Homo sapiens: one gene and its partners. The protein of the gene in region 1 purifies or fractionates together with the protein of each later gene. This does not show direct contact. Each region holds a gene or a part of one and is shown in the gene's direction. Other genes may lie near its edges. The genes, in order: FARP1, KDM4D, NSRP1, SDC3 and HAVCR2.

What was found.
Region 2: the proteins of FARP1 (region 1) and KDM4D purify together in Homo sapiens (affinity purification with mass spectrometry; one large-scale study listed by BioGRID and IntAct). This does not show direct contact.
Region 3: the proteins of FARP1 (region 1) and NSRP1 purify together in Homo sapiens (affinity purification with mass spectrometry, with the first as the bait; one large-scale study listed by BioGRID). This does not show direct contact.
Region 4: the proteins of FARP1 (region 1) and SDC3 purify together in Homo sapiens (affinity purification with mass spectrometry; one large-scale study listed by BioGRID and IntAct). This does not show direct contact.
Region 5: the proteins of FARP1 (region 1) and HAVCR2 purify together in Homo sapiens (co-immunoprecipitation; one large-scale study listed by IntAct). This does not show direct contact.

The regions. Positions count from the first base shown.
Region 1 is NC_000013.11:98,386,346-98,392,666, forward strand, and holds part of FARP1 (FERM, ARHGEF and pleckstrin domain-containing protein 1), read left to right. Parts: intron 1-2,037; coding exon 2,038-2,133; intron 2,134-3,611; coding exon 3,612-3,775; intron 3,776-4,466; coding exon 4,467-4,535; intron 4,536-6,321. UniProt on the Homo sapiens protein: Functions as a guanine nucleotide exchange factor for RAC1. May play a role in semaphorin signaling.
Region 2 is NC_000011.10:94,993,228-94,999,548, forward strand, and holds the end of KDM4D (lysine-specific demethylase 4D), read left to right. Parts: intron 1-3,796; 5' UTR 3,797-4,145; coding exon 4,146-5,717; 3' UTR 5,718-6,292; downstream 6,293-6,321. UniProt on the Homo sapiens protein: Histone demethylase that specifically demethylates 'Lys-9' of histone H3, thereby playing a central role in histone code. Does not demethylate histone H3 'Lys-4', H3 'Lys-27', H3 'Lys-36' nor H4 'Lys-20'.
Region 3 is NC_000017.11:30,167,790-30,174,110, forward strand, and holds part of NSRP1 (nuclear speckle splicing regulatory protein 1), read left to right. Parts: intron 1-313; coding exon of another isoform or gene 314-425; intron 426-1,111; exon of another isoform or gene 1,112-1,136; intron 1,137-4,752; coding exon 4,753-4,809; intron 4,810-6,321. UniProt on the Homo sapiens protein: RNA-binding protein that mediates pre-mRNA alternative splicing regulation.
Region 4 is NC_000001.11:30,901,135-30,907,455, reverse strand, and holds part of SDC3 (syndecan-3), read left to right. Parts: intron 1-6,321. UniProt on the Homo sapiens protein: Cell surface proteoglycan that may bear heparan sulfate. May have a role in the organization of cell shape by affecting the actin cytoskeleton, possibly by transferring signals from the cell surface in a sugar-dependent mechanism.
Region 5 is NC_000005.10:157,097,516-157,103,836, reverse strand, and holds part of HAVCR2 (hepatitis A virus cellular receptor 2 precursor), read left to right. Parts: intron 1-4,935; coding exon 4,936-4,979; intron 4,980-6,321. UniProt on the Homo sapiens protein: Cell surface receptor implicated in modulating innate and adaptive immune responses. Generally accepted to have an inhibiting function.

The DNA.
Region 1 (6,321 bases):
TACTGCACTTGAATTCTTACTTGTATTCTACTTAAAGACATAATGATTCTCTGCACTCTAAAATGTGTGCTCTATTGATCATTCTGCTATTGGACTGTTTCATTGATCAATGCTTCTCTCTTAGTAGCCTTATTGAAGTATTGTTGACGTACAATAAAGTGCACACACTTGAAGTGCATAGTTTGATAGGTTTTTATTATATATATGTATATCCTGTAAAATTCCCCACAAAACCAACAGAATGAACGTATTCATCACCCCCAAAAGGCTGTTCAGTACATTCCTTTTCAACACAAGTGGGTAACCTGTGCTTTTAGTTTCAAAGGGATATAGAGAAAGCACCCGCCTTTCTCATGAAATAGGATCAGATTTCACCCAGTTAGGAAGTTGTAAATATGTTCAGGACCTAAAACCCTTTATTGAGCTCTTCCAGGTTTGCTTATATTTCCCCCTTATCTTTTATCAAAAGAGTTCCAGTGATTCTCTATTCATGCACCAGAAGTTTATGACAGCATAATTATTACAAATCACATCCCAAGAAGAGTTAAGTTGGCTTCCTGCCAGGTAGTAGGGAGTGACATTGTGAGAGCAGTGTGGTATTCAAGGCGGATTTTTTCTTGACAGTTTTTGACCTGCACGCATAGCCTCTGAGTATCGGATAAGAGAAACAATAGGCCGGGCGCGGTCGCTCACACCTGTAATCCCAACACTTTGGGAGGCTGAGACGGGTGGATCACCTGAGGTCAGGAGTTCGAGACTAGCCTGGTCAACATGGTGAAACCCCGTCTCTACTAAAAATACAAAAATTAGCTGGGCATGATGGCGTGTACCTGTAATCCCAGCTACTTGGAAGGCTGAGGCAGGAGAATCGCTTGAATTTGGGAAGCAGAGGTTGCAGTGAGCCAAGATCATACGACTGCCCTCCAGCCTGGGTGACAGAGCAAGACTGTCTCAAAAAGAAAAACAATAAAGCCAAGTGGAGTTTTGAGTACTATCATTAAATTTCAAATCACAATCCTGAACCATTTCTAAAAAGTATTAAGAAGGAAAAGAAGTGTCTCACAATTGAATTAATGTGCTTTGATTGTGTTTGACACAATCCCTAAGTATTGGGAATACCTGGGTAATGTAGTCACGTGCAAAGCCTGTGTCTCGGAACCCACCTTCTTGCCAGTGCCCTATTGCTTCATTCTTGCCACGTTAAATGAACAGGCCTGGTGTTCCAGTGGGCTCCAGAGGAATTCTAATTTCAGCTGAGACTGGGCAGATGGGAGTTGGTATCCGGCAGCTCCCCGTTGTTTCTCCACCTTGGATGGAGACAATGACTCCCTGGCTGCCAAAGACAATGAAGACATGTGAATCCGGCCCAGAGACTGTGCTGGCCTTGAAGACACACAGCAGGCCTGGCCTCCCATCCTCAGTTCTACCGGTGCTGTTGGAAGCTTGATGGGCCCAGGAGCCAGACCAGCGTGGATGAAGCAGGGAGTTGATTGCAAACCTGCTGAATGTTAACCATAGCTGCCAGGAAGGCGTGTGCTTGGAAGTCTCTTTCTGCCACATTAAACGTGTCATTTGCAGCAAATTAAAATAAATCCACGTTGCAGTTTCCATGTGTATAAAATGAAAATAGTAAGTCCATCTTGCTGGGTTTTATCATATCAGGGTTGTTAAGATACAGTATATAAAGCCCTCAGGATGGTACCTGGCGCTTCCTAAGTCCTGGCAGCTAATGATTGTGGTGGTTGTCATGGTTTTTATTTCTATTTATCTTTCTTTTCATCATTATCTTGGCTAGTTTCTTCTCTCCCTAGAGGCAGACTTAGTTTGTATGCCAAAATCCTATAATTAGTGAGAAATAATGATCCAGGAACAGGTATCATCCGATAGCCACAGATCCTGTGAGTTCTCTGCAAAAGTCATCTCTACTGAGCAGTCGCCTGCCAGCCCTCTTCCTTTAGCTCCCATAAGCAAAACAGACCAACTCCCAAGTTGCTTGTTATGCATTTCCTGGCTCACTGCTACTGTCTTTCTTTTTAGGGTTTCACTAAGATCAATGCCTTCAACTGGGCCAAGGTGCGGAAGCTGAGCTTCAAGAGGAAGCGCTTTCTCATCAAGCTCCGGCCAGATGCCAATGTAAGTGGTCCTGGCGGGAAAGGGGACCCGTTGAGCCATGGGATGGCGTGTGTCCTGCAAGGGGTGGAGGTCTGCTTGGCAGGGCTTCTGCTGAACCTCTGGCCAGTGCTACCCAGGTGCTTTTGTCCACATGAACGCCGAGCGTCTCTAGGACAGATGTATCCAAATGGTCGGTAACTCTACGGCTGTCATCGTTGGTAAACAGAGAGCGTAAAGGAGGTACATGAACATGTACCTGGGGAGAGGGTCATTTCCCTGCGCAGATTCAGGCAGCCCCTCCTGATAAACAACCTGAGCTGTGCTATTGCTGTGCATCCAGCCCCAGGCTACACCTGGAGACCCCATTCAGTATCCTGCCCTACCCCAGGCATAGACTGACTTCCCCAATCCCTGCTGGAGGCCCTGAGCCCCCAGTGGAACTCATTTTCATGGGCTAATTAGGTTCCCTTCCCCACTTACTTCCCACAACACGCCTAACACTGTGGCCCACGCCAGGACTGGGACGGGAAGGGAGGAGAAGCCTCTTCTTTGTCTGCCAGAAATGGCGACGGAGGAGGTGGGTGATGTGTCCTGGGCGTCTGTCCCCAACCAGCGTGTAGAGTTCTTTTTCCCATGGCAAAGAAGATGATAAATGGCAATTAGGCTTATAGTGTAGCTACAGTCTGGGTTCAGTAGGTTTTCATGGCCCGACCTGGGAAGCATATACCCATTTTAAATGGTTTTCCATGGAAAAATTCACTGGAGTTCCAAAAAGCTGCCTTATAGATAAAGAACTGCAGCACAGCTTGTTTGTAAGTTGGGTCCACCCAAAACTGTGAGATCCCCCAAAATAGTTAGAACTGCTGGGAATGCTAAGGACAGTAGTAACTTTTGTTTATATAATATGGCCACTTCAATTGGGAGCAGAAAATTTCTATATCCCCTTTCCAGAATCAAAGGGCATGATTTTTTTCAGCCAAGAGTGACACTTTGTGCTCCAGAAAAAAAAATTCATTTCCTGTGTAGTTCCTGGGGTGGCCTGGAGCCCGGAGCCGTGGGCGACTTCACAGAGAAACGACGTAAGAGCCAACATTGACACGAAGTATGAGGAAGAGGATGAACGTTGCGTTTCAGTGATTTTAAGGAGGCAGGAAGGGACTTTCAGTATCTGGGTTTTGTTTTTCAAGGAAATGTAAGCCAAATAAACATAATTTGTATATGAAATCTGTCAAAAAATGGTGTCACTTCCATTGAAGCCACGTGGCTGTTTCTGTTACCCGTCTAAGAGATTCTGTGGGGAAGAAAATGATGGACTAGGGACCACATCTTGTCCTTAAGAATAACTAGAGTTTAGTAAGTCTTTGCACTGATGGTCATGCTATAATAAAATACACAGCGAAAACTTTATCGGACAAAGCTATCTTCTGCCCCTTTTCTCCTATTTCAGTGGTGTATCTATGGGTAATGGAAAAAACCACCGTTGTATTTTCCCTTTTTAGAGTGCGTACCAGGATACCTTGGAATTCCTGATGGCCAGTCGGGATTTCTGCAAGTCCTTCTGGAAAATCTGTGTTGAACATCATGCCTTCTTTAGACTTTTTGAAGAGCCCAAACCAAAGCCCAAGCCCGTCCTCTTTAGCCGGGGGTCATCATTTCGGTTCAGGTGAGGTCGCCACTTTGTGCCTCTGTTTGCTGGGTGCACGTTTTTCCTCCCGCCTCTCACAGCCGCTGTGACACACAGCAGGTCAGGGAGGTGAACGCTCATTGGCCTCCAGGAGCTATGGCCAAGCGGGGGCGCTTGTATCTTAATCCCAGTGGGCTCTGTTTGAACAGCAGAGGCACCAGGCAAAGCCACCCAGTCATGGTAAACGCCTAGCGGGAGTCTCTAACTCAGAAAGGATTTCTCTCTCAGTAGAAGTACAGTGTCTTACTAACATTTGGTGTTGCTTCATAGAATATGTGGACTTGGATGTTATTGGTGAACTTTTCCATTCATTTTTAACAAATCATTGTCTGCCATGTGTCAAATACTGTTCCAGGCACTGAGCCCAGTGATCCCTGCCTTCACTAAAGGCACAGGCTCTTGGGATGGTTGCTTAGTAACCAAACACAGTTATCAAGTGGGCTTAGTTAATTGAACATTTTTTCTGTATATTCAAGGAAAATATCAAGAGACTGAGTGGACCCAAAAATACAGAGTCTGTCAGGATTGCTTTTAGTCCTGGCTAGCCAAGCAACCCTGCATCTCTCCCAGTTAGGGAAGGAGGGGAAGTGAAGCCCTGAAGCATCATTTGTGTGTTTAAATGAGAATGCCTTGGTATTTCTCCCCTTCCCTGTTGTGGTCTCTGTTTCAGTGGTCGGACTCAGAAGCAGGTTCTCGACTATGTTAAAGAAGGAGGACATAAGAAGGTGCAGTTTGAAAGGTAAGAGAAGCTTCAATGCTACTTCCAGTCTGAGAAGGCTCAGACTCGCCAGGTAACAGTTTGTTGCTGCTAAATATTTCTTTACCCAGACTTCAGACTTGATGTCCCTTGAGTTGTAAATGATAGTCTCAGTCATCCTCAGCAAGTCCAGTGTTAGAGAGGAAGGTTTTAGAGCCCAGGGGCACACCCTCGAGAGTGAGATGAGAACAGACAGAAAGGACTAGGGGAGGCGGGAGAGGACATACTGGGGAAGGAGAGAAGGGCTTAGGACATCACAGTGGGGGATGAAGCATGATAAAAACTAGCTCACTGGTGAGTCCTTCAATATTTTGGGATTTGTATTGAAAGCATGTCTATGAACATTTTAATTAAATCAAGTAAATCTGGATGAGCAGAAACAGGATTTTTTCTTTCTCAAAACAGGGTCTTGCTCTGTTGCCCAGGCTGGAGTGCAGTGGTGTGATCACAGCCCACTGCAGCCTCAGCCTCTGGGACTCGATCAATCCTCCCACCTCAGCCTCCTGAGTAGCTGGGACCACAGGTGCCCACCACCACTCCCAGCTAAATTTTTGTAGAGATGGGGTCTGCCTATGTTGCCAGGGCTGGTCTCAAACTCCTGGGCTCAAGCCATCTTCCCGCCTTGGCCTCCCAAAGTGCTGGGATTACAGGCAAGAGTCACCATGCCCAGCCAGAAACAGGATTTATTATTATTATTGTTGTTGGTGTTATCAAACACTTGTAGCCCTTAGTGTGTGCCAGGCTGTTCCGAGCACTGGGCCTGAGTGAACTCATTGAGTCTTCACCTCAGCTCTGTGAGGTCAGTGCTCTTTTATTCCCTTTATAAAGATGGAGATACTGAGTCCCCAGTAGGTTAAATAACTAGTCCAGGTCTCATAGCTGCTAAGCAGTTTCTGGCCAGCCAGCCAGCTCCCAAGCCCAATGCTCCAAGGAGGAGCAGCAGAACCCAAGGAGGGTAAAGGAGCGGAGGATAGGCCTCAAGAACTAGTTACTGCATGTAGCGTTTTTAAAAAACTTTTTTCATTTTCATACATTTAAAAATTACAATAAAGTACAGGGAAGTCAGCAAACACCCAGATTCCTACTACTTAGAATTAACGGCCATTAACAGTTGGACACATTTGTTTCTGGGGTTGTTTTTTCTTCTTTTATTTGCAGCTCTCGTTACAGACATGGTAAAACCCCCTTGAACCACCAGCTCTGGTAATTTCCCTTCTCCCCTCCCCAGAGGCAGCTGCCACATTTAGGCTCCTTTCTGTATGCATATTACTGCATCCCAAAAGAGTGTGTAGAATTGCTCTGGAGGCCGGGCACAATGGCACATGCCTGTAATCCCAGCACTTTGGGATGCCGAAGTGGGTGGATCACTTGAGCTCAGGAGTTTGAGACCAGCCTGGGTAACATGACGAAAGCTCATCTCTACCCAAAAAAAAAAAAAAAAAAAAAAAAAAATTAGCTGGATGTGGTGGTGCATGCCTGTGGTCCCAGCTACTTGGGAGGCTGAGGTAGGACGATTGCTTGAGCCTGGGAGGTCAAGGCTGCAGTGAGCCAAGATTGTGCCACTGCCCTCCATCTCTGGGCCACAGAGCGAGATCCTGTCCCAAAAAAAAAAAAGAGAAAAAAGAAAAACTGCTCTGAGTGTGTTCTTTTCATTCATATAAGTACTCCCATATATAATTCTGCATCTTGCTTTTTTAATACTACCTTTTTTTTGAGATCTGTTTTAAGGGCCATACAGTAGTATGAAGATACTACACTGTATTTCTCT
Region 2 (6,321 bases), on another chromosome or scaffold:
TTATTTTTTAATTATTCTGATAAGAAAATACTTTTCTTTGGTTGTCAGAACTGTCAAGTTTTCTTAGATGACGAATTCTGCCTTATTGTGATTACTGTGGGTAAGGGTAAAATGGAAGAGTATCAAGTGACAGTGTAATTATTCTCTACTGGTAGCTATGGTTCCAGTTGAAAGAAGCAAGTAGTCTCACAACAAAAGCAACCATTGAAGACTCATAGAGAAGTGACACATTTGGCTAGAACACTGAAGGATCTCTCCATCATTGTACCTGGCAAATTCTAAGCAGTTTTTTTTTTTTTTTTGGAGCGCAGTCACACTTACAAATTGTAGTATTTTCTTTTGATATGCAACATCTGAAGACTATATGTATAAGGAGACATTGCATCATTCTTCCTAGAATCCTTAGAAATGTAGAAAAGAAGTAACGCAGTTTATAAAACAGATACAAAGTGCTCAACCCAAAGCTTATTTTACTTGTATATTCAAAAAAATATATAGGTTTGTGTGATTTTCATAGTCAGCATTTTGTTACTTCTTGAGGGAAAGACCCTCAGCATGATATTTAAGTTTCTGATATTTAATTATCCTTCTAAATTGTCTCACTTTTCTCTTTTCTTTTCTTTAGAGCAAGTTTTCTAATAGAAAGAATGAAATATTTTATTTTATATTCCAAAAATATAAAGAATTTATAATAAAATCATTGTAGAATAATTTTTAAGATTAAAAAATTGGGATGAGATTGGGAGACTATCATATGATACAGGTAATCTTGTCACTTGTACATCCTCAGTGTCTCGCTTGAGTAGTGACAGCTTTAAGTAGGAGAGGAAGACAAGCTGGATTCTTGGGTTCTTCTATAAGGAAGATAAAGAGAACACACCCTGGGGTGTCTAGATGTCCTTGGGGCCTCATGGAAGACTATCATTGGATCCTCTGACAGGCACTGACCATATGTCTGGGAAAAGGGAGATGTAATAGTCAGTGGTGACTACGATAACACATTATTGCCCTTGATAGAAATAAAAGACATATAAAGGAGTAACTTAGTTTCAGGAGAAAGATCATCAATTTGTATTAAACCAGTTGACTTTCAGGGGCTCACTGGGCCATCTAAGTTGGAGAAGGAGAGCAGAAGCTTAGGAGAGAGTCAGTTATTGGAGAAAGTTATGACAATAAATAACATGTTTAAAGGGAAACAGCATGGTACTAACAGAAACCCTGAATATAAATAGGAAATTTTAAGAGAGAAAGAAAGTTAAGAGGGATAAAAATTGAACTTTGAGATGTCTGCATGTGTGTGGTAGAAGAGGAGGTAGAACCCAGAAGAAAGAAAAGAACCAGTGTTAAAAGAAGTATCAGTGCCCTGGAGGTTGTAGGAGTTTTAGGAGGAAGGGGGAGGTGTTCTGTGAACCAGTGATGTTCTGTGAACCAGATGTTCACAGAACCACTGGTTCTGTGAATCAGTGAAGTGTAACCCCTGGAGCAGAATTTGGGAGGCAGTTTGATGATTTATGGAGAACAATGTCAGTAGAAAGGTGGGGGCAGGACCTGGGGTTGGGTGGGAGAGAGAGAGAGAGGAGCCTGAGAGGAGGGAGAGAGGGAGTAAGGACAGTAGCTTAAATTAGGAAAGAGATTGATGACTGATGATTTAATAAAGAGAAAAATAACTGATTATTTAATTCAACATAGTCCTGGACCAAGTGGGAAATGTTGATTTAAGGAGTTCAAATGGAGAAATTAGCCCTAGAAAGCAGTGTTTTCTCCTGAGAGGACGGAGAACAGTGAGAAACATGGGGTGTAATCAATAGGTGACAGAGGGAAGTGTGTGCCAACTCATTTAATTAATAAAAATGTTTTGGGTGCCTACAATATATAAGAAAACCAATATTCTTGGAAAACACAATAGTGAACAAGACACAGATTATGTTCTCAATACTTTTATATGGAAGATAAGTCAAGGATAGACATAATTGTAGAGACTGAAAACACAAGCTATTGAGTTAGTTATAAATTTCTCTATACCTTGGTTTCTTCCTTCATAAAATTGGGATAATGATAGTACCAACTTCATAGATTAGTTGTGAGTTTTGAATAGGATACTATAAAGTGCTTAATAAGGGGTCTGTCTAAATGAAGTGCTAAATAAAAGTGACACTGTTCACATTATATAAGGTAGAAGTGATAAGTGGCAAGAGAACTACAGGATATGAAAGAAGATGTGCTGTTTTGTTGGGACAGTAAAGGAAGATGAACAGTCAAGTTCATCTACTTGGGAAGGAGTGGAACTTAAGAACTGACGAAGAAGGGAAAGTTTGGGAGAGAGAATGTGGGAGGGGAGAAACAGTTTGAAGTTGAATAATAGCATAAAGTCAAAACTCAGGAAGATGTCAAGACATCAGTAAAATAGGCACTCAGTTAAAAACTGCCCCTAGTTTAAAAAATCTGTTTCGAGCATCCCAATCTTTTTTGAGCTTCCCTTTCCTAGTGTCCTAACAGGACTATTTGACTAAATAGAGAAATCTAGCCCACGAACCTCCCTCAAGTTCTTATTTCCTTTTTTATCCAGGATAGATATAATGGTTCATTCTCCATTCAACCCATCAACAACCTTATCCCTTTCTCACTGAGGTATACTTGCCTGGAAAAATCCTAACCCTGATGGAACCTTACTATCTGCTTTCTTCATCTCTTTTGAATGGCCCTTCTCTATGGGGAAAATTCCTGTCATGCTAGATTGGTCCATGTAGGGCTGATACCAGTTGTGCGAGGGATAGGGGACACATACTGCAAAGTCACACGGTATGAGTTAAGGAAACACATCATCTTTATTCTTTGTTAGTTCCGTACCTTTCCTCTTTCTTTCCCTTAACTCTAATTTGCCTTTATCACTTGAATGTATAGTTTATTTTCAGTCGTTCTTTCTTTTCCTTTTAATACAATGAAATATGCCTCTTAGTTGTCTTTAACGCTTTTCCTCCTAAACCCTATTTTTAAATGAACATACAGAAATTTGTGAAAATCATCATACCTTGATGAGTTAACACAATGAGTTATTCTGATGGGTATGAAACCAGCACCCAGGTTCTGAACAGATTAACTTTACTCAAGAGATCCCCTCAAGCCCCCCTACACAACAACCCCTCTTTTCCCAAGGTAGCCACTACTCTGACTTCAAACATAGATTACTACACTTGATCTTAGCCAAAAGGCCAAGAAGCAATTCAAACATAGATTACTTTGCCTCCTTTTCATCTTTATATAAATGCAATTGTGTAATAGGTATTCTTCTGAGTCTTGATAATGTTACTCAATATTGATCTTTATAAAACTGCATTTTCATGTGGCTTTGGTTTATCTTCATTGCTATATGGTATTCTGTTGTGTGAATATACTGCAGTGTACTTATTCATTCTATTGCTGATGGACATTTGGGTTGTTTAAGTGTTTGGCTACCAGAAACAATGTTGTTATGAACATTACTGGATGTGACTTTCAGCTCACAACCATACACATTTCCTAGGCATGTGGAACAGTTGGATCACAGAACATATGTATGTTCAGTTTTAGAAGAAACTGTCCAAATAGTTTTCCAAAGTGATTATAGTGCTTCATATTCTCTGTAGTAGGGTATGAAAATTCCCACTGTTCCACATCCACACCTCCACTTGAATTATCAATCTTATAAAATTTTAGCCTCTCTTTGTAATATTATTATTCTATTCTGGTATTTAATTTCTGGATGCCTAATATTTTTTCCAAATATCAATTTTTAATCTCTGTGTATTCTTTCTTTTAGATTTTGTTCTAAACACTGAGGACATTCTCTGCTACATTTGGGTCGTACCCCCAGGTCTGAGTAATTCAATAGACTTAAGAAGACAGAGCCCAGCAGCAACCGAAACATAACAGAGTTGCAGGATCAGCTAACGTCAATGCCTGGGCAAAGCTGCTGCCCAGAGTGGAATCTCACTAGTGAATAAACAAGCCCAAGAAAGATTATCATCTCATTTGCAAAAAAAAAAGTACGCTGGTAGATCCTGCTACCTCATAGATAACACCAGTCAAATTTTTTTTTAAAGTAGCATTTTCCTACATTGTCAACTATCTAGAACATACCTAAAAACTAAGAGTTTACTGCTTATTAAATGGAAACTATGAAGTCTAAGGCCAACTGTGCCCAGAATCCAAATTGTAACATAATGATATTTCATCCAACCAAAGAAGAGTTTAATGATTTTGATAAATATATTGCTTACATGGAATCCCAAGGTGCACACAGAGCTGGCTTGGCTAAGATAATTCCACCCAAAGAATGGAAAGCCAGAGAGACCTATGATAATATCAGTGAAATCTTAATAGCCACTCCCCTCCAGCAGGTGGCCTCTGGGCGGGCAGGGGTGTTTACTCAATACCATAAAAAAAAGAAAGCCATGACTGTGGGGGAGTATCGCCATTTGGCAAACAGTAAAAAATATCAGACTCCACCACACCAGAATTTCGAAGATTTGGAGCGAAAATACTGGAAGAACCGCATCTATAATTCACCGATTTATGGTGCTGACATCAGTGGCTCCTTGTTTGATGAAAACACTAAACAATGGAATCTTGGGCACCTGGGAACAATTCAGGACCTGCTGGAAAAGGAATGTGGGGTTGTCATAGAAGGCGTCAATACACCCTACTTGTACTTTGGCATGTGGAAAACCACGTTTGCTTGGCATACAGAGGACATGGACCTTTACAGCATCAACTACCTGCACCTTGGGGAGCCCAAAACTTGGTATGTGGTGCCCCCAGAACATGGCCAGCGCCTGGAACGCCTGGCCAGGGAGCTCTTCCCAGGCAGTTCCCGGGGTTGTGGGGCCTTCCTGCGGCACAAGGTGGCCCTCATCTCGCCTACAGTTCTCAAGGAAAATGGGATTCCCTTCAATCGCATAACTCAGGAGGCTGGAGAGTTCATGGTGACCTTTCCCTATGGCTACCATGCTGGCTTCAACCATGGTTTCAACTGCGCAGAGGCCATCAATTTTGCCACTCCGCGATGGATTGATTATGGCAAAATGGCCTCCCAGTGTAGCTGTGGGGAGGCAAGGGTGACCTTTTCCATGGATGCCTTCGTGCGCATCCTGCAACCTGAACGCTATGACCTGTGGAAACGTGGGCAAGACCGGGCAGTTGTGGACCACATGGAGCCCAGGGTACCAGCCAGCCAAGAGCTGAGCACCCAGAAGGAAGTCCAGTTACCCAGGAGAGCAGCGCTGGGCCTGAGACAACTCCCTTCCCACTGGGCCCGGCATTCCCCTTGGCCTATGGCTGCCCGCAGTGGGACACGGTGCCACACCCTTGTGTGCTCTTCACTCCCACGCCGATCTGCAGTTAGTGGCACTGCTACGCAGCCCCGGGCTGCTGCTGTCCACAGCTCTAAGAAGCCCAGCTCAACTCCATCATCCACCCCTGGTCCATCTGCACAGATTATCCACCCGTCAAATGGCAGACGTGGTCGTGGTCGCCCTCCTCAGAAACTGAGAGCTCAGGAGCTGACCCTCCAGACTCCAGCCAAGAGGCCCCTCTTGGCGGGCACAACATGCACAGCTTCGGGCCCAGAACCTGAGCCCCTACCTGAGGATGGGGCTTTGATGGACAAGCCTGTACCACTGAGCCCAGGGCTCCAGCATCCTGTCAAGGCTTCTGGGTGCAGCTGGGCCCCTGTGCCCTAAGTCCACGGGCTGTCTTTATATCCCACTGCCCTGCTGTGTGACAGTTTGATGAAACTGGTTACATTTACATCCCAAAACTTTGGTTGAGTTTGCAGGACTCTAGGCATGCATGAAAGAGCCCCCCTGGTGATGCCCTTGGATGCTGCCAAGTCCATGGTAGTTTTCAATTTTGCCATACTTTTGTTCTTCCTACCGGACCCTGGAATGTCTTTGGATATTGCTAAAATCTATTTCTGCAGCTGAGGTTTTATCCACTGGACACATTTGTGTGTGAGAACTAGGTCTTGTTGAGGTTAGCGTAACCTGGTATATGCAACTACCATCCTCTGGGCCAACTGTGGAAGCTGCTGCACTTGTGAAGAATCCTGAGCTTTGATTCCTCTTCAGTCTACGCATTTCTCTCTTCCCCTCCCTCACCCCCTTTTTCTTATAAAACTAGGTTCTTTATACAGATAAGGTCAGTAGAGTTCCAGAATAAAAGATATGACTTTTCTGAGTTATTTATGTACTTAAAATATGTTGTCACAGTATTTGTTCCCAAATATATTAAAGGTAACCAAAATGTTAAAATCTGATTTTATTTCAAATATTGTGTTTTCAACCT
Region 3 (6,321 bases), on another chromosome or scaffold:
TACTTAAAATATCAAATACTAAATAGACTCGTTTTTCCTTTAATGTTAATAACATTCTGTGTTTTCATTTTATGTGACTTTCCACTCTAATGGTCAACAGTACATGTACAGTTATAATAATACTTATGTTACTCTAGTAGATGGAATCATACCTCAGCTTTACGTTTTCAGAGGAATCATCTCAGTTGGTGAATTTCCAATAATAGCAACATAGGACACCGTTCAATATTATAAAGTTTAAATCAGATTTATGCTATAGGCTATTTGTACCTTTCCATGCCTTTTAATTCTGTGTTGTCTTGAGACATTTCAGTGTATATCCAGTACTGGTGTTTAAAGGAAAGTTATTAAAGTTTGGAATAAGAGTACCTGAATTGGAATCTTGCTTTGCCATTCACCAGCTGTTTGTCCTTAAATTCTCTCAGGTAATCTGTAGCCTTAACAATTAAAGGTGACTTCTATATGTCATTTAGCTTACTTATCCATTATTTCTGAAGTTGTTAGGATTATTGTAACTACTGTTGTTGTTACTATTTTTAGATTAATATATTTCCTTTCTGGATTTCCATTTAAAATATATTTAAAGAATCATAAAAATTAAACACAAGCAACATCCTTTTATATTCTGCACAGTTCTTAGCAGAATTATAGATTCAAAAAAGACACACAGAATAGGCCACAATACATGTGCCAATTTTTGTTCTCAATCTTAAAATTACATAGTATAATTATTATGGTTATCTGAAAACAATCACGTTGTGCACATGTACCCTAAAACTTAAAGTATAATAATAATAATAATAGTAATAATAATAATAATAAATAAAATAAAATAAGTATCTGCTCTTTTATGAGGAAATTGTTTTTAATTGTAGTAGTTATTTTTCAGTCTGATCTGAATCTAGATGAGTTTTTTATGTTATATAGAAGATCATTTTATATATTTTTATATAGGGTTACTATTACAGAAAAAAGTAAAAGTTTTACTGCTACTCTTTTAAGCTTTTTGTATTTGTTTAAACAGGTTTTTGGCATTTAATCGTCATCCTTAGTGGTAATTGTTAAAGTACCTTTATTTAGAAAATTGAGAATCAAATGACCTTCAAAAGATCATCAGTTTTTCCTGACTTTTTCAGGTTAGGTTCAGAGTTATCCACTGATGCTGTTGAATTCTAGGGATATAAGTTTGTGAATAGAATATGTAAAACTATTGCACTCCTTCCATTATGTTACCTTCCTGTGTAAGTAGTAACAGCTTGTTTTTTCAACGGTCATACTTCATTCTTCTAAACAGCTATGAACATAGAAACAAAATCTTTTGAGGTGTCTCAAAATAGATATAGTCTACATTGGAAAGGCCTTTCTCAGTCTGCTTATTCTATATTTTATAAAAGTCTGGAAAGGTATAGCCTTGTGTTTTTCTTTCCCAAGTTTTCTTTTTAAAAGTTATTTTATTTCTCTGAGAATCTTCCATAACAACCAAGTTACATAGTTTAGATTGAAGCATCCAGTTTGAAAGGCAGCAGGTAAACTCTGACAGATTAAAGGTGACAGACTGAAGGAGGAGATAGGAAAAAATAAAAGCAAGTAAAAGAGGAAAACATCCAGCATTTGGAGATGTAATCTTCTCAGTCAGTCCTGAAGACATCATTAACTCAGTGGTCAAGAAAAATATTTTTCATTCATACTAATCAGAAATACAGACATGAAAATACATTGGAAATATTAACTATTACTTTCAGTTTTGGTATTTAAAATTGATATTCTAGTGAATGAAAGTTTCATATTACATGTAACAGAAATTTGGATTAAATCAGTAATACATGTAATACACAACTAGTATACTTAGCATAGCACCTAGCTCAATAAATGTTAGCAGCTATTACTGTTTTTGTTATCAACATCTTTCCCCCAGTTAGTCAGTTTACCATCACCTAAAATGTCTTTAGTTCTTTGCATACTTATTTAATTTTTTAAATATGTATTATATGACCTTTGTGTATTAAATTGATTTGTCTGTGGTCATAGAGAACTATTTTGTTCTGGTTATTACCATGAAAAAAAAAAAGCACCAATTGCTGGTACAATACAACTGAAGATAGCAAGTGTTAATAGGCTGGACTACTATAATTCTAGAGCTGAGGATTTTGTGTACATATATATATTTAAAACTTACACATATGTTTTTATGTATATTTAAGACTTCGTTTTTTTTTAAACAGCAGTTTTAGACTGACAGCAAAATTGAGAGGGACAGAGATAACCCATGTAGCCCTTGCCCCCACAAATGAAAGAATTAAAAATGCATCAGTAGCTTTATTTTGGCTTTTTTAAAAAGATGTAATTCACATAGCATAAAATTCATGCTTTTATACAATTCAGTGTCAGTATATTTGCAAATCCTGATACTTGAAAAAAATTAATTGTGCATATTAAGGTATATAACAATTATGGGATATAGATGGTAAAAAGTTTACTACAGTAAAGCAAATTAACATGTCCATTATCTTACATACTTTTTTTGTTTCTGTGGCAAGAGCAGCTACAATTTACTCATTTAGCATGAATACCATATATAGTACAATTTTATTACCTATTGTCCTCATGTGGTACATTAGATCTCTAGACTTGTTCATCTTGTTACATACCTACCTCTTCCCATTTCCTCTCACCCCACCCCTAGTAACCATTGTTTTTAAGTTCTTTATCTCTGTGAGAGATTCCACTTACAAATGATGTCAGGTACTATTTTTCTTTTTGTGTCTGGCTTACCATGTAGCATAATGTCCTCCAGGCCCATTCATATTGTGGCAAATGGCAAGATCTCCTTTTTAAAGGCTGAATAATACTCCATCATACATATTTACCACAGTTTCTTTATCCATTCATTTGTCAATGAACAGGTAGATTGTTTCCATACCTGGCTATTGCAAATAATGCTGCAATGAACATGGGAGTGAAGCTACCTTTACCAGGTGGTGATTTCATTTCCTTTGGCTATATGCCAAGAGGGATTGCTAGGCTGTATGGTAGTTCTATTTTTAATTTGTTTATAAACCTCCATACTGTTTTCCATATTGACTGTACCAGCCTACATCTGCACCAGCAGTATATAAGAATTCCCTTTTCTGGCACCCATGCTAACCTTTATTATTTTTTGACTTTTTTAGAATAGCCATTCTAACAGGTGTGAGGTGTTATCTCTTAGTGGTTCTGATTTACATTTCCCTGATGATTAAAGCCTGTACTATTAAGGAAACATATTTTTCTTAAGTATTTTTTTTTCTTAGCTGTATGTAATCTTTAGTTTTGCCCATGTGATGACTACTTCCTATCTTCCTCTTGCATTCTTTTACATTTTTATTCTCTTTGATTCTGGTCTAATGTCATATCTCTTTTGGAAAGGGATTCTTGATTCCTCATATACATTTAGTTGCCTTCTCTGCCCTGGGCTCCCACAGTGCTTTGTTTATTCCTTTATTATATTGCTTATCACATTTATATTGTAATTGTCTTTTTTTTTTTTTTTTTTTTGAGACAGAGCCTGGTTCTGTTGCCCAGGCTGGAGTGCAGTGGCACAATTTTGGCTCACTGCAACATCTGCCTCCCAGGTGCAAGTGATTCTCATGTCTCAGCCTTTCAAGTAGCTGGGATTACAGCTGTGCTCCAACACTCCCGGCTCATCTTTGTATTTTCAGTAGAGACGGGGTTTCACCATGTTGGCCAGGCTGGTCTCAAAACTCCTGGCCTCAAGTGATCTGCCTGCCTCAGCCTCCCAAAGTGCTGGGATTACAGGCATGAGCCACCGCGCCTGGCCATATATTGTGATTATTTCTTTAATTGTCTTCCCTTTCAGACTGTTTATCTGAAAAACAAGATTTTGTTTCAGTCTCTGGCCTAAGACTGAGACTGTTCTTGCTTTTTCACTATCCTCAGGACCTAAACATGCTTTTTGGTACATAGTTTTTGATTATTGCCACGAATAGTTGCTGCTGTCCCTAAGCCTTAAACATAAACCGAGAGCTTGATACACTATATTGAGTGGTGAATATTAAAATAGTTTGCTTTTTGTAAGCTGGGAATCATACCATTTTAGTGTTGGAAGGTACCTGAAATATTATCTAGACCAGTCTTTCCCCATTTCTCACACACACACACACACACACACACACACACACACACACTCCCTCTCTCTCTCTCTCTCTCTCTCTCTCTCTCTCTCTCTCACATGTTCACATGAAGCAAATTGAAATCTGTAAAGGTTGAATGACAGTAGTGAATTTAGGACTAAAAATTCATGTTTACTCATCTTTTCCTGTACCATTCTATTTTCTCTGATACCTTATAATCTATTCTGAGGATTTACAATGCAAATTCATTTATTTCCTGAAGTTTAGGGAAAAAACCCTGAAAATGTTAGTTTAATTTGTATTATTATCTTTTTACTTTTAACTATAAGTAAGGCACCATTGCCAACCAGAAAACAGGTTGAGCATCCCAAATCTGAAAATCAAAAATCCTAAATGTTCTAAAATCTAAAACTTTTTTGAGCACTAATGTGAAGCTCAAATGAAATGCTCATTGGAGCATCAGATATCAGATCTTCAGATTTGGGGTGCTGAACCAGTAAGTATTTTAAAAATCTGAAATACAAAACACTTCTGGTCCCATGTATTTTAGATAGGGGACGCTCGTACTGGAAAAGAAATTTTAAATTTGTTTAAAAAGTGACAATATATTTCTGTTTTACAGACCTCTGTGAGTGAAAGCCTTCAGAGGGAAGCTGCTAAGAAGCAGGCCATGAAACAGGTAAGGTAGAAGACTGGGATAAGTGCATTCAGTGAAGCATTCCGGCTCATTTTTAAGCATCAGTTTTGGTATCTAGGTGCTGAGACTAAAACAGAATAGATTTAAGGAAAAACACAATGAAGAATTAGCTCCTTATTGCTGTGCTATAGATTAAACCAGTTCTGCTTGTAGATGACTCATTAGTCTAATAATGGATTGTTTGGCCTGTTGTTATTATTAAATTCTTGCTAGTGAGCTTACTTGCAGGGAAAAAAAAAACCTTTTCACAACCAAAATGGTTTCACAAACTTATAATTATTTGAAACTCATCTGCCCAGAAAGAAGAATATCAGAGATAGATACAAATATATAGATATATAGATATATAGATTTTTTTTTTTTTTGAGATTGAGTCTTGCTCTGTTGCCCAGGCTGGAGTGCCGTGGTGCACTCTCGGCTCACTGCAGTCTCCATCTCCTGGGTTCAGGCAATTCTCCTGCTTCAGCCTCCCGAGTAGCTGGGACTAAAGGCGCATGCCACCATGCCCAGCTAATTTTTATATTTTTAGTAGAGACGGGGTTTCACCGTGTTGGTCAGGCTGGTCTGGAACCCGTGACCTCAGGTGATCCGCCAACCTCAGCCTCCTGAAGTGCTGGGATTACAGGCGTGAGCCACCGTGCGCGGCCTGATAATTTTTAAAAGACGTGCTTGTTTCCAAGTGCTTTTTACATACATTTATCTTTTACAGTTCTCACAAACTTGCCCATAGTACTGATTAAGAAATCTGAAACTCAAAAAGGATAAAGTGCTCCTTAAGATCATACTATTAATTATCGAACTAGGCCTGAAGGTTTACTAATTTTTCTGCTATTGTAGACTAGTATATCTTAGATTTTCTGCTATAGAATGTAATGAAATTAAACAATAGCGAGGTGCCTTTGTTTTTCATTTTGAATTATTTATCCTCTCCATTAGCTTTATAATTTTTGGTCCTATTTCCTCTTTGTCTAACTGGAAACCTGCATAAAGATAAGTTTATTAAGCACTTTCTATGTGCCAGGCATCATGACAACTATGTTTTAAGAATGATCTTTAATTCTTACAATAATTCTATGAGATAGATGCTTTTATAATCCTTATTTTATAGTTAAGGAAATGAAGGCAAGAAGAATTTATGTGACTTGCATGAGACCACATAGTTAATAAATGGTAGGGCTGTGTTCAAAACTAGACAGTGAAACCTCAGAACCTAGGCTTTTAACCACTGTGTTTCACACCCTCCCGGACGAATTGGCACAGAAGGATATATTTAGTCATTTTAAGATAATGTCAGAGTTTCACAGTGAAATATAATGTGTAACTCAGCAGCCTCAGAATGATTTAATATACACATAAAACATAAAAAACAGTGATTATTTAACATAAATACTGGAGTGCTTTGAGTCAGAATTTTGGAGATACCATTAAGTTCAACTTCCTCACTATATAAATGGGAGACTTAGTTCTGGAGAGTTGGGTAACTTATCCAAGGTA
Region 4 (6,321 bases), on another chromosome or scaffold:
ACATAGGACGAGGACCCCTGAGGGGAACCAAGCATGTGCAGGTGGAGGTGATGGTATGTATGAGGTGACCCTTGAGTGTCCCTTTGAGTGACCGTAGCAGCCATGCTTGGTCCCAGCTCCGTCAGGGATGGCAGAGAAAGGAAGGACCTCATCCCCCTTTGAGGGATCCAGGCCCCAGATGAGTTCTTGTTGGACAAGTGTCCAGGTTCTGGCTCAGGCGGGCTGGGGATTTCTAGGTCCAGCCTCCCAGGTTGGTTCCAGGAGCTATGCTGTCCTGCATCCCCCAGGCTGAAAAGGACCCAGGCCTCTCAAGCAACACTGGGTGCCCAGCCGCCCTCTGCAAGTTCCTTCCCTTTCCCAGCCTCAGTGGGCCAGTCAGTAAGACAGGAGGAGGACAGGCAGGGGCTCCAAGCTTGCTTCTTGGATGGACAGGCCCCTCCTCAGCCTTCCCCATCTAGGGGGCTGTCAGCTGGAGGGAGGGGAAGTGTTGAGGGCTGACCTGTGTGAAGTGCCTGCTGGCCAGGATGTCTCATTCCCAGCTCTCCCCTAAGTGGGGTGAGAGGAAGAGGTCCCTGGGAGGGATAGAGACCCAGCACACCCTAGCAGCTGGGGTCGCCTTCTCAGCCAAATTTCTGAAAGACCATCCTTAAAATCAAAGGCTTGGGAATCACACAACCCTGGGTTCCAATCCTGCTACCCCCGCCGATTCGTGGCATGGTTTGGGCAGGTCCTCTTACTTCTCTGACCCTTGGTTGTCCCTCTGTGAAATGGGGCTAATGACCCCTTCCTCAGAGGGCAAAAATTCAATGGGATGACTGACGAGTGTCCTGAGAAGGAGCTCAGGAGTCATGTGGTGTGCACATGAATGAAAGGGGCTCAGGACAGAAAGCTTTAGACTTGGAGGCCAGGTGGAGCGCTGGGCAGGCCACTTTCCTTGCTGAATAAGGCTAATAATTCATACTCCACGAGGTGGTGGAAGGACTTAGTGAGAGCATTTAATAGCCTCATGCACAGTAGGGCCTCGCAACACGGGTGACCTGAATCTGAGAGGTGTGGCTCAGACCCAGTGTTGGGTGGCAGATCAAGCAGACCCTGGGAGTCTGAGCCCAGAGGCTGAAATGGTGGGTGGGGCCTGGGGGAGGGCAGGTACTGGGGCGCCTGGTGAGGTGGTGGGAAGTGGAGTGTCCTCCAGGCCTCACATCTTCCCATGGGTCAAGCTGTCAAGGAGGGGCATCATCCCTCTTGTCCTCATCTGACTTGGGAGGAAAAGGGTTAATGGGTGGTACCTGGTTGCCGGGGTTCCGCACCAGAGGGAGAGGGCAGTGCCTGCAGCAGGAGGGACTGAGGTTAGATCAGAAGAGCCCCAGCCAGGGAAGCTCCAGGGGTGGCCTTGGTAGATGAGCGGTGGCTGGCACAGGGCAGGGAAGGGCAGGGACATGATGACCCTTGGGTCACCTGCCAGCCTTTGTGTGTGTGTGTGTGTGTGTGTGTGTGTCTTCGTGTCTTTCAGCATGGGGATAGCAGGGAGAGCAGGCCTCATTCACACTGCAGATGGTGAATTGCAGTGTGTGTGTGTGTGTGTGTTTGTGTGTCTGTGTCTGTCTCCTGGCATCTCCTTTGAGGAGTCCCTCTTCTGACAGACCAAGTTACCAGGACTCTGAGGGACATCTGCCTTTAAGGCCACCTCAGCTACTGTACTTAAGTCACCACTCAAAGTTTTGGAGTGTGAGGATCCTGAACATTTTAGCTTTTGAAACATGTTCTTTCAAAAGTCCAGGGCTGGAAGGGATCTTAGGTGTTAGTCTTGTTTGAATACTCCCAGTGATGGGAGACCACTACCTTGTGGCTGTGTGACCTTGTGAAAGTTACCTAACCTCTCTGTGCCTTAGTTTCCACCTCTTTAAAATGGAGACAATGCGAGAATGGAAGGGCTTAATTTGGAAAGCTTTTAGCCCAGTGGCTGGCACCTACTAAGGGCTCAACAAATATGGATTTCTTGTTCTTTTACAAAGTTGCTGTACTGTGGTTGGGAAGGCAGGAGGGGTGGGGAGTGGAAGGGTGGGAGACGTGTGTGTGTGTGTGTGTGTGTGTGTGTGTGTTTGTGAGAGAGAGAGAGTACGGATGGGGGTGGGGGTGGGGGTGGGGTGGGGTGGGGGAATTAGTAGGGAATTCTTTTGAAGCTCAGCCCCAGGCCTGGTGGTTTCCGTTCCTTCCTCACCCTGTTTCAAGCATCCCTGCTCTTCTCCCCTCCAGGCTCCCCTGGGTGACTGTGAGCCTTGGGTTTCCAGGATGAGATAGTCCTCACCAAAAAAATGGAAAGTTGGGGGCCCCTGGGCTGTTCTGGGCCAGGCTCTTGGGTGAACCATCTCCCCTTCCAGCATTTGGGGGACAGGCACAGGGACACCACAGCTGTATGCTGCCTGTTAGCTCCCAAGGTACCAGGGGCTCTGGGGACAGACACCTGCTGTGTGATTTCCAGTGAGGGATTTCTTTCTGTCTCAAAGTCCTTGTCTATAAAATGCGGACAGTAATGGTGTCAGCCTCACAGGGATGTTGTGACTTGGAAATGAGCTGCTTGAGTAGACCGAGCACACCTGCCACGTAGTGAGCTCTCAGGAGATGGGACCTTTCTGGGAGGGAGCATGGATGGGGTCAGGGAAGGCTTCCTGGAGGAGGAGGGTTTTGAGCTAAGCAATGAAAGTGGTCATCACATGACAGTAGCAGGCTGTAACCTGCCCTGACCCTCAGCTTTCTTACCTGTCAACTGGGGGCAACAAATACTTGGCTTTTAGAATCACTACTGGGGGCTGTGACTCTATCCTCAAGGCAGGGCTGGGATTTGAACCTGAAGCCTCCTGCTCTCTGGGGAGGAGTGAGCACAATGCCTCCAGCTGTGAGTTCAGTGTGTTGGGGGTTGGTGCGAGGTGAGCTGTGCTGGAAAAAAAAGTGAAAGAAAACAACAAACAAAAAACAAAAAAAATGGCCTTTTGAAACCCAGTGGCTCCTCCCACCTCATACAAGCGGGCATAGGGTCCCTGGGGGGTCCGGGGCAGCAGGAGTGGTGGCAGTGGTGGGGAGAGCGAGGGGGGGCTCATCCCAAGTGGGAGAGAGAGGTCATGTTTACCGAGAGCCCCGCCCACCAAGCACTTTACATGTATCGGCTTATTTCATCCTTACAATAATTTTTTGATGTAGGAATTATTAGAATCCTCATTTTAGTATTTTATTTTATTTAGAGACAGAGTCTCTATCGCCAAGGCTGGAGTGTGGTGGTATGATCCTGGCTCACTGCAACCTCTGCCTCCTGAGTACAAGCGATTCTCCCACCTCAGCCTCCCAAGTAGCTGGGATTACAGGCACCTGACACCACACCTGCCTAATTTTTGTATTTTTAGTAGAGATGGGGTTTCACCATGTTGCCCAGGCTGTTCTCGAACACCTGACCTCAAGTGATCTTCCCACCTCGGCCCCCGCAAAGTGCTGGGATTACAGTTGTGAGCCACAACCCCCAGCCAGAACCCCCATTTTACAGAGGAGAAAACTGAGGCACAGAGAGGCTCAGTGACTTACTCAAAGTCACACAGCCAGAAGTGGCAGAGCTAGTATGAGCCAGGGCCTGACAGGCTAATGGGACTGGGCTGCAGTCCTAAATTTACCCCCTCTTGCTGTGTGATCTTAGGCAAGCTGCTTTACCTCTCTGGGGCCTCCCTACCCCCTGGATTATGTCTGCATTAGCTACTGTTTAGTAAATGCCTGCTCTTCTGGCGGGGTGGGGCTGGGAAGGGGGTTGGTCCCATATCTTTTCTCACTTAATTCTCCCACAGCCCTGGAGGTCAGTGATGCTGTCTCACCCTGTGGGAGGGATTGGCCAGGGCTCTTCCTCATCTACCGCCTCCCAAGGCTCTGTAGCCCATAAAAGCAGCTACTCTGAGGGCCACTGGGGGTGTATGGGGTGGGGAGAGAGAGCTTTATAAACTGCGAAGGGCTGTCAGCAAGATTGTGTGTGCGTGCATGTGTACATTTGTGTGTGTGCCCACACATGTGTATGCGGAAGGGAGTTTATGTCTGGGTCATGTGGTCAGGGCACAGGAGAGGGGAAATGTTTGGAATCTCAGGATGAGAGGGGTCTAAAAAGCCACCATAAGCCCTGATATGTGCCAGATGCCCCCAGTGTTGGGGACTGAGTCTGCAGAGGTGACCAGGCCTGCCTTTAACCCCCTCTGGCCCTTAGAAAGTGTGTGGAGGCCAAATCCGTGTTCCTCCTGCTCCATCTCTGAGCACTGGCCCCATTGCAGCCAAGATTCTCTCTGGCCTCATAGTGATTGAGGCTTAGAGATGGGGTGTGACTTGGTGGGGGTCCCCCAGCTGTCAGGAGTGATGTCAGTGCTTTCTTGATAGACTTTGAGCTTCCTGGGCAGGCTCGTGGCTGCCATGTTTTCTCACTGAACCCCCAGGGACCACTCTGTGCTTGGTGCAGGCTCGAGTGAATGATTCAAAGGAATGAATGAATGAATGAGGGAATAAAGGAATGAAGGAAGCCGGGACTGTGAGCTATGGAGCCCAGGCAGGGGCTTGTGTCCTTTCCTGTGTAGGTGGGTTGGGGACAGTGAGGCTGGCAGAGTCCTGCTGCATGCAAGGCATGTGCCCGTGGGCTGGGAGGCGCCAGGGGGCTGCATCGGGCGGGCCTTCAGTCTGAGTGCCAAGGCACTGCCACCACCACATCTGGGCAGGACCGAGGGACTGTGGCTCTGGACTACAGCCCAGCTGCTTGGAGCCCTTTGATTTTGTGTCTCAAGGGACAGGGTGGCCAGAGCCAGGAGCTGCCCAGGCCCCAGGCCCTTGCTCCCATCATCCCCCCAAACCCCTGTCCCAGCAGGGAGCAGGGTCCTGGACTTCCTGACCTGTCTCACTGGCCCCTCCAGGCCTCTGTCCTCCATAACATCACATCCTGGGAACATCGGGCTGGCTCTTGGTAAATATTTGTTGATGGCACCCCCCACACCCTCACTCCCCTTGGCTCCCAGCCTCCCCAGATTCCAGGAGGCCTGGTGGCCTTCACTTCCGGCCCCCCTCCCGCCATGGCCAGAGGGGCAGCCACTCCCCTCCCCCACTGGCCAAGCCCAGTCTCAGCGCCAAACAGGAAGCCGTGATTACAGGGGGAGCCTGAGCGGCCATGGCTGAGGGCCCAGCAGTGGGGGTGGCGGTGGCCCCAACAAATGATCTGGCCCTTTTTTTACCTGGCTGCTGTGGGTGGAGGGCAGGAAACGCCTATGCTGGCCTTTTATACCAGGTGGAGAGGGTTCTACAACCCCTGTTGCCCCAGCTGGCTGAGGCCTGCCTTCTCCCCACCCCTGGCCTTGGTGCTATGTCTGTTTTGGGGTGTCCCAAGCCTGAGGGGGCAGCTTGAAGTCATCGAAGGAGTAGGGATCCTGGAGCCAGCTGATTCAGGGTTGAAATCCTGGCTTTGTCACATTCCTGCTGTGTGACCTTGGTGAGTTCACCTAACCTCTCTGAACCCGCAGTCTCCTCTTCTTTAAAATGGGACCTCAGGGTTGCTTGAGAATTAGTAATATAAAGTAATAAAGTAAATAAAGTACTAAAGTAAATAAGGAGCGGGCTGCTCCTGCAAATCTTGTTTTTTTTCCATTCACCTGCCTTGGTTTTTGTTCTTTTTCTGTCCCTCTCTGGGTCTTACTGAAGAACTACTGCTTGGGGGTGAGGAGCAGGGTTTTCTTTTGGAGAGAGGGGGAACTAAGTTTGAATAATCATGGATGGCCTGAAGGAGAACTCTGGGGGTGGGGGTACCCTTAGAAGGAGACCAAGGGCCGGACTCCCAGTTGGAGCCAGCAGGACTTAAGCCAGATGAGAGGAAGCACATTCTAGGGTCCGTGGTGCTGAGTTTCTGGGGGCTGGTTCTCCAGAGCTGTTGAGCAGCCTGCAGTCCATCCTGCATGATGACTCTTCAGGCCCTTCCACTCCTGGAACTCCAGAGAGGCCTTGTTATTTGCAGCTTGAGCCCAGGACTTGGTGAGACTGGGTGCTTTCCATTTTCCTCCCAGCCAGGGAGCATCTCGGCTGTGTTCTGTCTGTCACATGGGCCCTGGCCCAGAGTAGGTGACTATTGATGTTTACGCAGGATCTCAGGGGTGGAGAGTCCTAGAGAGATGGCCAGCCCTACAGCCTGACATCCCACAGCTGATGGCCCAGCCACAGCCTGGGGCCTTGCCAATGGATTGGGGCTGGCTCTCCAGCCTTAGATGGTCCCACTGAGCCTCCCACCACTCTTGAGGGGCTGGTGGGATTCCCCTTATTTAGAGGAAG
Region 5 (6,321 bases), on another chromosome or scaffold:
TGGGTTCTAATTTCAGCTGTTCTTGATAGCTCTGTGACCTCAGTCAAGTTGCTCAAATTCTCTGAAGCTCAGTTTGCTCATCTCTACAATGAGGATAATTCCAGTGCCCATGTCATGAGGTGGTTGTAATGTATAAACATGATAATGTATGTAAAATGCTCAGCATAGTACCTGGCCCATAAAAAGCACTCAACTGTTTATTATTACTATAGTTACTGGTTTTAGCTCTCCAAAGTTTCAGTCTTTGGTTAGTCTTTAGTGATTGGTAGCCAACATCTTTTATGCAATTAGAGAGGAAACTAAATATGGTGGGGACAGAAAATAATAAAGTTATACCAGATACTTATTGTATGCCATTGTTATATTTTAAAGAATCTTACAACCATAGTGCTAGAAGGGACTTCAAGGGTCATTTAGTCTCACTTTCCCATCCTGTGCTTCAGTACTTTTTTTTTTTTTTTTAATTGAGACGGAGTCTTGCTCTGTCACCCAGACTAGAGTGCAGTGGCGCAATCTCGGCTCACTGCAAGTTCCGCCTCCTGGGTTCACGCCATTCTCCTGCCTCAGCCTCCCAAGTAGCTGGGACTACAGGCGCCCACCATCAAGCCCAGCTAATTTTTTTCTTTTTTGTATTTTTAGTAGAGACAGAGTTTCACCGTGTTAGCCAGGATGGTCTCCATCTCCTGACCTTGTGATCCTCCCGCCTCGGCCTCCCAAAGTGCTGGGATTACACGCGTGAGCCACCGCGCCCGGCCAGTACTTTTTACTACATCACCACTGAATGGGCATTTGCTGTAGACGGAGTTCACTCCCTGTCGAGGTGGTGCATTTCCTTATACTTGTCTCTACCACAGACAGAAGTCTTCTTTCCTTTAGTTTTTCTTTCCTTTTTTTTTTTTTTTGAGACGGAGTCTCACTCTCTCACCCAGGCTGGAGTGCAATGACACGATCTTGGCTCACTGCAAACTCTGCCTCCCAGGTTCATGCCATTCTCCTGCCTCAGCCTCCCAAGTAGCTGGGATTACAGACGCGCGCCACCACGCCCCGCTAATTTTTGTATTTTTATTAGAGACGGGGTTTCACCATGGTGGCCATGCTGGTCTCGAACTCCTAACCTCAGGTGATCCCTCTGCCTCGGCCTCCCAAAGCGCTGGGATTACAGGTGTAAGCCACCACGCCCAGCCTTCCCTTTAGTTTTTGTTTGTTAGTTCCTTCCCTCTAGGGCAACAAAAATGGGAATATAGGAATAATACCTCGAACCTCTGAGCTTCTCAAGGGCCTGACTGAGAAAAAATATTGAAACAACCAAAAATAGGTCAGTAGCTCCTAAATAGGAAAATAAAATAAAAAATTGAAATGAATGAATATTTAATGGTTTGTCTATAATATGTAACATTATGTAAATTGGCTGCTGGCAAACCAACTCTAAATGTGGGATGTGGGAGCATTTAATATAAAAATGGGGCTGGGCACAGTGGCTCACATGTGTAATCCCAGCACTATGGGAGGCCAAGGCAGGCAGATCACTGGAGCTCAGGAGTTCAAGACCAGCCTGGGCAACATGGCAAAACCCCATCTCTACTAAGAATACAAAAAATTAGGCTGAGTGCAGTGGCTCACACCTGTAATCCCAGCACTTTGGGAGGCCAAGGCAGATGGATCACCTGAGGTCAGGAGTTTAAGCCAGCCTGGCCAAGATGGTGAAACCCCTGTCTCTACTAAAAATACAAAAATTAGCTGGTCATGGTGGTGCATGCCTATAATTCCAGCTACTCAGGAGGCTGAGGCAGGAGAATTGTCTGAGCCTGGGAGGAGTGAACCGAGATCTCACCACTGTCCTGAAGCCTGGAAAACAGAGCGAGATTCCATCCCAAAAAAAAAAAAAAAAAAAAAAATAGCCGGGCATGGTGGCATGTGCCTGTAGTCCCAGCTACTTGGCAGGGCTGAGGCAGGAAGATTGCTTGAACTCAGGAGGTTGAGGATTCACTGAGCCGAGTTGGTGCCACTGTACTCCAAACCTGGGCAACAGAGCGAGACCCTTTCTCAGAAAAAAAAAAAAAAAAAATGGAGTAGAGCCTTTAAAAGTAAGAGATCCAAGGGCCTGGAATTTGAACACAGAACAAATGCAACTTGTCTTCTACCTGAAGGAGTAAGGACTGGGTCACAGGTGAGTCCTCAGCTCTAGAGTAGATCTGCTTTAAATCCTAGCTTTCCCAATTAATAGCTGTGTGATCTTGGGCAAAGTGGCTCTCTCAGACTCAGTATCTTCATCTGAAAAATGGGGAAAATAGTAGTACCTACTTATTGTGGTTGAGGATTAAATGAGATTGTATGTATATGGTGCTAAGCACCATGTCTGGCACCTAATAAGTACCAAATAGATGGTAACTACTAAATTTATACACTGTTAAGGCCATCACATCTCACCTCCGCTGCTACCTGCCCCACCAGGCAAATCTTGGTTTCTCCAGAAAGAACATTGCCACTCCCTTCAACTGTCCCATCCATCTTGGTTGGTGGCCAAATCTGTGTGAAAAAAAGCTGTAATGACACAACAGTGCTTGATTTTACTGATCATTTTCATAGCAAAATGAAGTTTTTAAAAAGTTAGTTTTACCATTTTTATCAAGAAAAATAATTATAAGGAGTCTGAAACTGGATTTACATTTAAAATCTTATGTGCACTTAAGATTCATGTTTACTTAGCAGTTGTACTGATGAGGGTCTTTTTTTTATTTTTTTGATATGGAGTCTTGCTCTGTCACCAGGCTGGAGTGCAATGGTGTGATCTCGGCTCACTGCAACCTCCACCTCCTGGGTTCAAGCGATTCCACTGCCTCAGCCTCCTGAGTAGCTGGGACTACAGGCGTACACCACCACGCCCGGCTAATTTTTTGTATTTTAGTAGAGATGGGGTTTCACCATATTGGCCAGGATGGTCTCGATCTCCTGACCTCGTGATCTGCCTGCCCTCGGCCTCCCAAAGTGCTGGGATTACAGGTGTGAGCCACTGCACCAGGCCTGTGGTTTTTATATTTTAAATTTTTTTCTGGTAATTAGGGCAAAAGTAATTGGAACATAATCTTTTTTTCTTCAATAATTTTAGGCTGAGGCTATGCCTTTATAATATTTAAACTATAGTTTGCTAAACCAGCATTTAGTCAAACCCTTTATACACATTAAGGCTTCCAGAAGGTGACAGTGACATTTAAGAAGTTTCAACATCTCTGACTCAGCCATAAAAATGAGTAAGCATGCTTAGTTTTCCAAAAGCTGGCAATGTACTTATTTTTAGAATTCAGTGTTCATGAGGTCAGGGCCTGTGCCCCTCTTGTTTCCTGCTCTGTCCCCTGTGCCTAGAGTAAGGGCATAGTGCATATTCATGGAATGGATCAGCAGATGAAGAAATAAACAAATGAACAGGAAGGAAAGATGGTGAGTGGGTGGCTGGGCAACGTGACCCTCTTCATAATGACAGCACTGAGGTAAGGGCTGGTGAAGGCAGTATAATTAAGAATGTGCATTTAAGGCTATGCAGACCTAAATTGGAAGGCCATTTTGTCATTTGCTAAGTCATGTGACCTTGGGTTAGTCACTTCACTTCCCTAATTTTCAGTTTCTTCATCTGTGCAATGGGACTAACAGTCTCTACTTTAGAAGCGTAGTTCTAAAGTAAGTGCTTCTAAGTATCTCTAAAATGAGCTTCTTCACTGAAAGAGTTTATTTAGCACAAGGCCTGGCTCCTATTACATTGTGACCACAGTGATTATTTTCATTTGTTGGCAACCCTGTCTCCCTTCTCATGAGTAAATGCAAAACTTATTTAAGAAAATGGAGGCTGGGCACGGCACGGTGGCTCACGCCTGTAATCCCAGCACTTTGGGAGGCCGAGGCGGGTGGATCACTTGAGGTCAGGAGTTCGAGACTAGCCTGGCCAACATGGCGAAACCCCGTCTCTACTAAAAATACAAAAATTAGCTGTGTGTGGTGGTGTGCCCCTGTAGTCCCAGCTACCAGGGAGGCTGAGGCAGGAGAATCGCTTGAACTCAGGAGATGGAGGTTGCAGTGAGCAGAGATCATGCTACTGCACTCCAGCCTGGGTGATAGAGTGAGATTCTGTCTCGCAAAAAGAAAAAAAAGAAAAAGAACATGGAGGTTGCAGTGAGTTGAGATTGTGCCACTGCACTCCAGCCTGGGCAACAGAGTGAGACTGTCTCAAAAAAACAAAAAAGAAGGAAATGAATTTTTGTTGTCTTTTAAAATCTAATTAGAATATAATGCCTGAGGCCAAGCCTGGTCGTTCACACCTGTAATCCCAGCATTTTGGGAGGCTGAGGTGGGCAGATCACCTGAGGTCAGGAGTTCACAACCAGCCTGGTCAACATGGCCTCGTCTCTACTAAAAATACAAAAATTAGCTGGGCGTGGTGGTGCATGCATGTAGTCCCAGCTACTTGGGAGGATGAGGGATGAGAATTGCTTGAACCAGGGAGGCCGAGGTTGCGGTGAGCTGAGATTATGCCACTGCACTCCAGCCTGGGTGACAGAGTGAAATTCTGTGTCTAAATAAATAAATAAATAAATAATGCCTGAGTCTTATCAATATTGCTAGATGTTTGTAGAACTCATTAGGGTCCTGTGAAAAAAACAAAGCACATATTTAATGTAGGACTTCCTGGCAGAAGTCTCTATTTCATAAAACAGTACGGTTCATTATCTAGATGAAAAAATGTGGCCATCCTAAAGTTGATTCCTGGGTGTTCAGTAAATTTTGTCTGTCTCTCCATTAATTATTGTGACAAGTACGGAGTAGAATTCATTTCAAATAGGATTATAGGCATCATTAAGATTTTTTAAAAACTTAGATAAAAGAAAACGTTCTTAACTATACTATTGGCTATTTTTCCTCTCTCTCTCTCTCTCTCTCTTTTTATAGCAGAGACACAGACACTGGGGAGCCTCCCTGATATAAATCTAACAGTAAGTAACTTTTTTTGTGAGCTATGTTGTACTCAACTTGGAGGGGAAATCATGGCTTTAGACTTCCTTCATGCCCACCTTGTCCTTGGGGTAAAAAGCCTTAAGTTCCCTTAGCTTCAGATTCCTGGGCTGTAACATGTTGATGATGACAGTTCTAACCTCATAGGCCTGCTGTAATGAAGGACTGACATGATGTGTGTAAAGTGCCTGGCATATAGTAAGAGCTTGAAAACCACAAAGAAGAAACATTAGCATTTTGTCCCTCTTATTCTTCAATTTCACAACTGTCTACCCTGTGGAAGGTTCAAAGATTCTTCATCTCCCTAGAATACCATTCTTCTTGCTTCCATTGCAATCCTAATGGGAAAGAGTATTTAAATTTATCTCTTTAAATATGGCAAGACACCAGTCAGGAATATTCAAAGTGAAGAGGTTTTTTTTTTTTTTTTTTAGACAGAATTTCGCTCTTGTTGCCCAGGCTGGAGTGCAAGGGTGTGATCCTGGCTCACCTCAACCTCCGCCTCCCGGGTTCAAGCGATTCTCCTGCCTCAGCCTTCCGAGTAGCTGGGATTACAGGCATGAGCCACCACACCCGGCTAATTTTTTTATTTTTAGTAGAGACGGAGTTTCACCACATTGGCCAGGCTGATCTTGAACTCCTGACCTCAGGTGATCCACCTGCCTCGGCCTCCCAAAGTGCTGAGATTGCAGGCGTGAGCCATGGCACCTGGCCTAATTTTGTATTTTTAGTAGAGACAGGGTTTCTCCATGTTGGTCAGGCTGGTCTTGAACTCCTGACCTCAGGTGATCCGCCCAACTTGGCCTCCCAAAGTGCTGGGATTACAGGCATGAGCCATGGTGCCCAGCCAGTTTTATGTATTTAACTATAAATAAAGCCATACCTTAATAAACCTCAATTTTACTGTCCCTGCTACCTTCTCAGAATAAAAGAAAAACTGGCTGGGCGCAGTGACTCACGTCTGTAATCCCAGCACTTTGGGAGGCTAAGTAGGGTGGATCACCTGTCAGGGGTTTGAGACCAGCCTGGTCAACATGGTGAAACCCCATCTCTACTAAAAATACAAAAAATTAGCCAGGTATGGTGGTGTGTGCCTGTGTAGTCTCAGCTACTCAGGAGGCTGAGACAGGAGAATCGCTTGAATCCAGGAGGTGGAGGTTGCAGTGAGCTGAGGTCGCGCCACTGCACACCAGCCTGGGCAACAAGAGCGAAATTCCCTCATAAAAGAAAAACCACTAGAAGGCAAGCTTGCAGCAATGACTTAAAAATTCTTTGAGGAGGCCGGGCACAGTGTCTCATGCCTGTAATCCCAGCACTTTAGGA